Homo sapiens: one gene and its partner. The protein of the gene in region 1 interacts with the protein of each later gene in a pairwise test. Each region holds a gene or a part of one and is shown on either strand. Other genes may lie near its edges.

Region 1 (4,892 bases):
CTGGAGGCGATGGTGCAGAAACAGGTACCAGAACCGACTCCAGGGCAGAGCAGGCAGGGCCAGACCTCCAGGGTGATGTGGGCACAGGAACCCTGGAAGGGACTGGGGGCACTGGAATGTCCAGTGGGGAGGGACTTGGGCACAGGGAGCAAATTGGAGGTGAGAAAGCTGCAGCCATGAGCAGACCAAGACGCTGATGTTGAGAGTCCAGCTGCCCATCCGAGTGTGATTCCAAATCCTTTTGCTGACTTCTCAGACTATGTATACAAGATTGGAGTTTGAAAGTCACCTTCACTCAGAGACTCTGCTTGCCTGGTGTGGCTTAGGGAGGAGTTGAGCCTTCTGACTTTACAGAGGAGACCACTGTCATCCCCCAAGACCTATCCCCTGTGCTCCTCAAGTCTCAAGAGCCTTCAGTTGTGGCTGAACAATCATGTATATCTCTTGGAGATGCATCTGGATTCCTATAAGTGTTCCAATTTGCCTGCATAGGATCCATAGAATACCCATATGTCTCTTGTTTCTTTCACAGGGCTGGCACAGTGCCTTGCTGTTGTAGAAGTTCAGCAGGTAGTTGTAGAATTTAAAAGCATCACCCCATGTAGCTGAATGTTCAGGGATCACAGGCCACGGCTGCTTCCCACCCACTCCCAGCCTTCAGGGAGAGGGTATGCCTGTCAGCCAATGGGCAGAGTGCCAGGCTGCAGACCAGGGTCTGGGCCAGTCATTTATTTGTCCCCATGACCTGTGGCTATTGAAATGAATGCCCCCAAATCCATGCATCCTTTTGCCTCCTGCATGGCACACGGCAGACACTTCATAAGCTGGCTGTTGGGGAGAGTCTCAGGGAGCCCCATGGAAAAGAGAACCTTGGAATCAGAGTTGAATGACAGCTTATGGGTGCTGGAGGCCCCTGTGACCTTGACCGTGCACAATGCCCAGGCCAGCTAGGACTTTTTCCTCTCCTTAATATATTTAAATGGAGTCAATACTGGGGTCAGCTTCATGCACACAGCCTTCTTCAGCCCTAGAGGTGAGGTGATCTGCACAGCTTCCTGAGCAGGGTCCTCCCTGGTGGCTGAGGTGTGGAGGGCCCCAGCCAGGCTGGATGGAGGTTGACTTTGTTTCGGAGCCCTTGCTTGGACACCGGAGTGCAATGCTCGGGCCACACATCCTTGGAGGAAGGGCAGCCTGGAAGTGGTGGAACAATCTGTCATGATCATATTTTTGTGTAATCAAACACTCTTCCCATAATACCTTTAATGGCCGCATAGTGTTCTATTGTGTGGCTACACCACAGTTTAATGTCTCACTTTGTGGAACATTTCAGTTGACTCCTACCTTTTGTCACTAAGGACAGCATTGTCATGAAATTCTCAACAGCTACATCATTATGATGATCCATGATTCTCTTCTTATGGTAAAGTCCACAGAACTTCAATTGCTGGGTTAACGGATTTGTGCTCTTTAACACTTCAAGTACATTTTACCAAACGGCCTTTCTAAAAGTCTTGACCTATTTTCATTCCCACTAGAAATGTGTGAAAGGACCTATCTCTCTGCAACTCTTACATATGCAGAGCTGTGGTTGTTTTGGTGGGAGAAGAGCTTATCTGGTATTTAAAAGCTGTAAGTTTTCTATTTGAATTTGAATTTACCTGATTTCTAATGAGGTTAAACATTTTTGTTGCACATCAACCTGCCATTTGTATTTCACATGTACTTGCCTCATGTGGACAGATTATCCAATCCTTTCCCCAATATTACATTGTGGGTGTTCATCTATTTTTGTATTGGCTTGTAAGAGCTCTCTACGTATTAAGGGCATTAACCTTTGTCTGCCACATATGTTAAAACGTACTTCTCGGTTTATCATTTGCCTTTTAATTTTGTTTATGATATTTATTGTCTGGAACTGCATTAATGTCTTCTTGCTAGACATCTTCTCTTATATGACTCAATGACATTTCAAACTCTGCATATCCAAATTGAAATTCATTATTTCCCCCCACCCCAACCTGCTCTGCCTGCTGACTGGCTTATTTTTGTTAATGTCACCACCATTTCCCTAGTCACCCAGGCTTGAAATGTTGAAGTCATCTTTGATTCCAGCTCCTCTCTCTTCCCCTACATTTTGTCAGTTGCCAAAGCCTGTAGAGTCTATTTCTGCACTTTCTCTGGCAGGCAGCCCCTCGGACACCCCAGTAGTTCAGGCTCTCATTATTTCTTGACTGGACTTTGAACATAGCCTCCAAAGTTCATACTTTGCCTCTCTTCCATTCCCTTCTTTTCCTTGGCCCCTCCTGTGTGCTGCTACCACATCTATCTTCCTAAAGAGGAGCCCAAACACAGAAGTCACTGCTTCCCTGGTTACAAACCGGCAATAGCTCCCCGTTGTCTTTTGTATTTAATTACGACCTCTTAGCCTGGCCATAATTTCCTTTCAACTGAATCTCTCACTGTCTCAGCCAAGCTGCTCCCAAACAAACTCACTGCTCTCCCGCCTTTTGGTTGCTCAAGCCGTCTCTTCCTCCACCTGCCAAAATCCGTTCAAAAAGCTCCCACCTCACCCCACCTCCTGCTATCCCAGGGCTTCCTGACTCTCTGCATTAAAGTGAATTCTCTTTCCTGTGAACCTCCAGAACAATTTGCTTGAACTTCTCTTGTAGAACAAACCTTATTCCAGCATCTATCAGAGACAATAAGGGTCTTAGAATCTAGAAAACAGGGTCCTGGGAGGGCACAGTTCCCACACGTCTATTTCTTCCACAGGACCTGCACGCTGCCTTGCTGTTGGAGATCTGTGCAGTAGGCAGTTGTGGAATTAAAAGCAACACCCCATGTCGCTGAATGTTCAGGGATCACAGGCCACTGCCGTTTCCCACCCACTCCCAGCCTCCGGGGAGTCTTAGCCTGTGGAGTCCCAGGAAGCACATGGAAAAGAGAGCCTTGGAACCAGAGTGGAGTGACAGCTAAGGGGTGCTGGAGGCCCCTGTGACCTTGACCATGCACAATGCCCAGACCAGCTCCGACTTTTTCCTCTCCTTCACATATTTAAATGGAGTCGATATTGGGGTCAGCTTCATGCACGGAGCCTTCTTCAGCTTTAGAGGTGATTCTGCAGCCTGCACAGGAGTGTGCACTTGACACAGTCTATTTTTAGCCTCCCAGAGACCGTGACCAACATCCCAAGCTGAGAGTGGGCACACCTGCTGCATTCTAATGAGGCAGCCCCACTCGCCTTTGCCAGCCCGCCCGGGATCTCACCGACGTGAAATCTGATGTTGCTAAACTGGGAAGTCTGCTTATTTCCCAAGGGCGGTAGCCTAGGTACACTGGGAAGATGGGACCATCCCACTGCCCCCAGCTCACTCCCCTGCAGCCCTGGACACAGAACAGTCTTGGGACTGCGCGGAGTGATTCCACGGAGGGGTTGAAATAACTTGGCTTTCTTGATCTTGCTGTGTCCTAGGATTCCCCTGTTTCTCTTGCTAGAAAGGAGACAGTAAGTCTGAGCTGACCCAGCTCACAGACAAGAAAATCGAGACATAGAACAAGGACATGATGTATGTAATAATCATAAGCACTTACTATGTGCCAGCCTGTTCTAAAGTCTTTCCATATATCAACTCCTCCAAACTTTTGGACAAATTTTTCAGGTAGGTTTTATTATGATTTGTGTTCTATAGAGGAGGAAAAGCTGAGGCACAGTGATGACAAATTATTTCCCAAGGTCACACAGCCAACAAGCGCTGGGTTTCAGAGTCAGGCACTGTGGCTCCAGGGTTTGTACTTTCAGCCAGTTCGCTATCTGCCTCCTAGTATCTATTTTTAATTTTACTAGAGCCAGGATAGGACCCAGGAGCCTGGATTCCCAGCCCTAGAGGACTGACTACTAGATAATACTCCTTTTTTTATTTTTCTAGTTCAGCCCTGCTTTGAGGCCTTTACTGTGCCTTGTACATCTGGGTCTCCTGCACTCCAGGCAGAGGAGGTCTCCTGGCATAACTGCTTCTGTTGCAGTGTTTGAGCTTCTGGGCTCCAATTGCTGTCTCTGGGCTCCAGAAGCTCTGTGGACCCCCATCTCCTTCTCCCTGCTCCGCCTAGCCTGTGGAGGACCAGGGAGCAGACAGTGATGGGCAGCAGCAGTGGGTGTAGAGCTGGGCTGGGCCTCAGGATTGGGGCACCCAGAAATAGCAATAATTGGTTGTGTGGAGGCCATCAGTGTGGGTATCCACAGTGCTGAATTCAGGGTAGAACTGTGAATCAGAAACTAGGGGGCAAGACAACAGGTAGGAGACACCAGAACCTAAGACATCTGCATTTTGGGGGCCGTATCCTCTTCTAGCTTGATGCTGCCTGTTGAGTGGAGAGAAGCCCATGGGTTCACGTTCCTGAGGATGCAGGTGGGACTTCGTTTCCTCTAACAAACTCTTACTATATGCCTGGCCCTTTTCTAAGCACTTTGAAATACAAACTTGTCTAATCCTCAGGACAACTCTAGGAGGCAGGGACCATTTTATTCCCATTTTAGAGAAAAGGAAACTGAGGCACTGAGAAGTTCATAAGTTTGCCCAAAGTTGTATAGCTGGGAAATGGCAGAGCTGGGATTCAGCTCCGGAATCTACACTCTCAGGCACCATGCTGTGCTATGCATCTTTCCCTTTATTGAATGTTTCCTATTTGCCTTCAAAGGAAGATACTATTTTCCCCATTTCACAGATACAGAAACTGAGGCCTGCATTGCTCAGGTCACCTAGCTAATAAGAGCTGAAGGTGGGTGAAATCTAGGTGTGTGTGGCTCCTCGGTGGACTGCCATCTCTGGACAGATCACAGCCATGAGCCCAACTGCTGGGAGCTGGAAGGGCTCACCTACCTCCCTTTCAGGAAG
Region 2 (4,892 bases), on another chromosome or scaffold:
TTTTGAAGTTGTATGTTTTTCTGTTCCTGTCTAGTGAGACAGTCTCTAATCTTTCTGGATCTCATCATTAGGTAATTCAATGACAAGTTTAATTGGGGAAAAGAGAGAAGGATCTAGTCCCCCGAATTTGTTTTGGGTCCTGTCCCAGTTGTCTTCTGGTTAGTAGGTTTTTGTGCTTAAGAATATGTTGACTTCAGGCATTTAACAAGGGACAAAACATCTATTTTTAGTGACTTAAGGAAGTGGTAGGAACAGAATCTAAGTGTAGCCAGATGAAAGGTGACTTATTTTGTTTAGACAGGCAGAACTGTGGACTACCATGATCTGTTTCATCAAATTATTCCAAAACAACAGATCCTTTTTCAGGCTTTCTTTTTCTTTTTCTTTTCTTTCTTTCTTTTTTTCCTAAACTTCCTTTTGGCAGATGTGGCCTCATGGATGAGCTGGTACACGACTTAGCCTCAGCCTTGGAGCAGACATCTGAGCAGAATAAGCTTGGTGAACTGTGGGAGGAGATGGCGCTGAGCCCCCGACAGCAGAGGCGGCAGCTTCGGAAACGCCGAGGTCGGAAGCGTCGTTCTGACTTCACTCACCTGGCAGAGCATACCTGCTGCTACAGCGAGGCCTCTGAGTCAAGTCTGGATGAGGCCACTAAGGACTGTCGAGAAGTGGCTCCGGTGACCAATTTTAGTGACTCTGATGACACAATGGTAGCCAAACGACACCCAGCTCTCAATGCCATTGTCAAGAGTAAGCAACATTCTTGGCATGAATCTGACTCCTTTACTGAAAATGCACCTTGTCGACCACTCAGGCGCAGGCGGAAGGTGAAGCGAGTGACATCAGAGGTGGCTGCTAGCCTTCAGCAGAAGCTGAAGGTGTCAGATTGGAGCTATGAGAGAGGCTGCAGGTTCAAGTCTGCTAAGAAGCAGCGTCTGTCCCGCTGGAAGGAGAATACTCCCTGGACCTCATCAGGCCACGGATTGTGTGAATCAGCAGAAAATAGGACTTTCCTAAGCAAAACAGGAAGGAAAGAAAGGATGGAGTGTGAAACAGATGAACAAAAACAGGGCTCTGATGAGAACATGTCAGAATGGTGAGATCTCCCTTACTAAGTCAAAGATTTTCCTGGTTAATTTTTCCCAAAGTGCACATCCATGGTCTTAGTGGGTTCTACCTTCTTTCAAACCAGCCACTCTAGTATTGACTTTGAAGCCTTCCTTGAATCAATCAGTAGTTTAGCTTTTTAAGGTACCATTCATGAGTCTATTTCCCTCTGTCAGGAAGGCTATATGTAATAGAAACACAGTTGTTTCTAAAAACTGTTTAAAACGCGTACCTCAAATGCAAAACTAATAATTTTATTTTAAAAAACAATTTGCTGCTTATTATGCCATACAGTTTATACATAAATATTGTTGTTTAGAACTCAGGTCTCAGCAGAGGCTGGTGTGTGTGTGTGAGAGAGAATATGCTAGCGCCAGGTATACGGAGTTTATAAATGTTCCATTAAGTTGCCTGTCCTCATTAAGAATCATGGCTTTAGATGCTTTTTGGCTATAATTCTGTTTTCTGCTACTTGTGGTTTGATTATATTGAATTTATTTTTTTATGGCTGACATTCAAATTGTCTGAACACATGGTGGGCTTTGAAAATAACAGTACCGAGTCCCATTAGTCTTACATCAGATGTGATCAAGCCAGAAAAATTTGTCTCTAATGGGTACATGTTTAAAAATGTAAGTGTAGTTTTGGTGACTTTTTATTTTTTACATCTCAGATAGTCCTAGGAACATTGATACCCCCCAGCTTGATACTTTAATGTTATTAATATTAATCTGTGGTTATCTTTTTCTTAATAGTGAGGATGCCATTGGTGTTTTGGATGGGACAATTCTTTATGGTGCATTGCAGAATATTTAGCATCTCTGCATTATTCACACCCCCTTTTCATTGTATCAACCCAAAGGCCTCCAGGGGTGATCCCTAGGTGGATTGAGTACTCCCAGTTGAGAACCAGTGTATTCTATTATTGTTAATATTAGTTGGCATTTATTAAGCACTCAACTATGGGCCAGGCACTGTACTATGGACTTAGCATATACTCTTATTTAATGTTCACAATTCCACTATATGGTGGATACCACTATTTGTATTTACAGAAGGGAAGTTGAGGTTATAAGAGCTTAGATAATTTGCCTAAGATCACCCAGTGCCAAAACTGGGAATCAAGCCTGATTCCAAAGCTCATTCTTAACCACCATGTTGTGCTGCCCTTTGAGTTGTTCTGTCTCAATTTAACTTTCCCAACTGTAGAACATATGACCTTTCTGAAGTTTAGCTTAAAAACAAAGACATTAATCTTAGGAACACTGAGGTGAGGCTGTGTCAGTAACAGGAAAAACTGTTTAGGTCTGTATACCTGTACCTTTCTTGAGTGGTTTTTAATCCAGCTTTTAAACTTTTTCTTATTAACTTTATATTTGCCAGTCTGCAGACTATATTGAGATAGGCTCATAATTTGACTTTCCTAATTTTCCTCTAATGCCTCATTCCTTCTAAGGTCTATTTGCAGAATTTATATGTATATATTTGGATTATAAAGGTATTTTTCCCTCATCAGACTATTTTTAATCAAACAAGAAATGCTTAGTCAACTTGTAGCCTTTCACACTATTGAAACCCTCTATTGAGACATTCAAGTTTGTTTTAATATTGAGCATATATACCAAATAGAAGTCTTCTTAGTATTGAGAATGGTGATTTTAAAAGTAGCCTTTTGGGATAGTAGCTTTGTGTATGTTTCTTCCCCTTAATTTCTTGTTAAACTACGACATAATTGTATGTGAGAGAGCGACTGTTAACTCTGTCTGCTCTAACAGCCCAAGTATGGCTCCAGATGCAGAGCCTGTTTTCTAGCATGAGATGCTTCACTCTTTTCTGTTCCTTCTTACTCCAGACACATCTATTGCACATTCTAGTCAGGATGTAATAATGTAAATTCTCGTTATCTGAGAGTCTGGATAACTTAAGTGGATGGGAATTCTTATGAAATTCTTACTCTTTTCAAATTGAGGAGAACTCATTCACCCATTTGGGCTATTATCCTGGCCCCTCACTTCAGAGTTCTTTCAATATGTAGATGCTAAAGGGTTGTAGCTGTGAAGGAATAATGGGCGGAGTGGTGGCACACACGGCATTGAGGAAAGTTCTTTAAAATCTTCTAGTTATTTAGGAGTTCTAAATTCCCCTTGACTTGTCTCGATTCATTTGTAGTTACAAACAGAAGTGCTTTGTATTTTTTCCCCCTGAATCCATTCTGTGGGGAAAGGGGGTGATTCTTACTCTTTGACTGAATGTTGTGTTCAGCCTCTCTTCAAGAGGAGAGTGGAACTAAAATCTCCCTTAATTGTTAGGCACACCTTTAAAAAGGGCTGGCATTAGAGTGTAAGGAGATAATAGTATATGATTTGGATATTATACTGTCTTGATGAGTTGATTCTGTCAATAATTTTCTACTTTATTTTTTCCCTGCATTTTTAAAAGAAATACTTTCAAGAATCTTCTTGGTTACCCTTTCATAAATCTACTTGGATGTGCCACTGTTTATTCACATACAGATCAAAATGTAGAATTTTACTTTTTAGCAGTGGTATTGAGGGTTGTCAGAGTAATGATCCACATTGTAAGATTATTAAGATGAAGTTGATTGTTAAGCTTAGCTTAGCCTAGTCAATGGTAGCGTTTTTTTTTTCTAAAGCATGTATTAGATGTTTTAGATTTGAAAATGTGTGTCTCAATCAGCTTATTTCTAATTTCCTTAAACTCACTCTTTGCGACCTAAACATGGAGTATAGACTTCATCAATATTTGTTTGCTTTTCTGTTTCTGGTCTTCCTTTAATATTACACCAGCCAATCCCTCACAAGTTTTGAGGAACTAAAAATGGTTATAGTATAGTAGTTTTTTTCTGCTTGCATAGAGATCAAACTATTATTTTAATATTTTTCTGTGTATGTGTGTTTGTGAGTATTCTAAAGCAGAACAACTACTGTAAAATTATTTTCTACTGATCTTTATTTAAATTGTCTGTATAGCAACTATTAATAGCTATTAGCTATTAGGTGACTGTAGCCTAATTTTGCTCTATTCTTTACTAACACATCATTTGTTTGTTCCCCTTGAATATAGTTTAGCTTCTTTTTTTTTTCATAAGTGAATTGGTTGGGTGATGGCCAGAGGTCACATTCAGGAGCCTTCCTAAGGTGATGTATTAGAGGCTGATCTCACAGGAAAGAAAATATTCTCCTCTCTTGGAAGGCAAGTGACAGAGATAGAGTGCTAAACCTACCCACTCCTTCTCCAGCCCAGGCTGACCTTCTGCGGCCCTTTGGTGCCTCTTGTTTTCTTATTTTTATAGAAAATCAATATCCCTTCTGATACAAACAATAGCTCAGAAGCAAGAATAAGTGGGAGAAAGCTGAGATCTCTGTCCATCACCTCTCACTTTAACTCCCCCAAACTCTTTAATTATGAGTGTGCTTTGCTCCAGGTGTTTGTGACAGTGAAATTGCTAAATGAGGACCATTTTAACCAAAGATTGGGTGATCAATAACACTCTATAGCAGTAGCTTGTTGGATCAATAGCATTCATTATTTCATGGTTAAGGTAAGTAGCCTCCTTTGCAAGTGGAGGTCATTAATCAGGGTTTCCTGGAGCTGTGTAAAAGAATATGTATGGTAGGTGGGGGTGTTCTGTTTTCTATTCTGTAAGTAGGGATGCTGACCAAGAATATATTTACCATTGTTGCAGTTGGTAGTATTGCATGTGAGATTCTCGAATAGCTAGCATAGTGTGCTTATGTGGGTATATTCACAGTTCTGCTAGTATC

Evidence for each region. Proteins that work in one complex are often made in the same cells at the same time.
Region 2: the proteins of PRMT8 (region 1) and GPATCH2L interact in a two-hybrid assay, tested with the Homo sapiens proteins (one large-scale study listed by BioGRID and IntAct).

The regions. Positions count from the first base shown.
Region 1 is NC_000012.12:3,535,596-3,540,487, forward strand, and holds part of PRMT8 (protein arginine N-methyltransferase 8), read left to right. Parts: intron 1-4,892. UniProt on the Homo sapiens protein: S-adenosyl-L-methionine-dependent and membrane-associated arginine methyltransferase that can both catalyze the formation of omega-N monomethylarginine (MMA) and asymmetrical dimethylarginine (aDMA) in proteins such as NIFK, myelin basic protein, histone H4, H2A and H2A/H2B dimer.
Region 2 is NC_000014.9:76,153,930-76,158,821, forward strand, and holds part of GPATCH2L (G patch domain-containing protein 2-like), read left to right. Parts: intron 1-424; coding exon of another isoform or gene 425-434; coding exon 435-1,096; intron 1,097-4,892.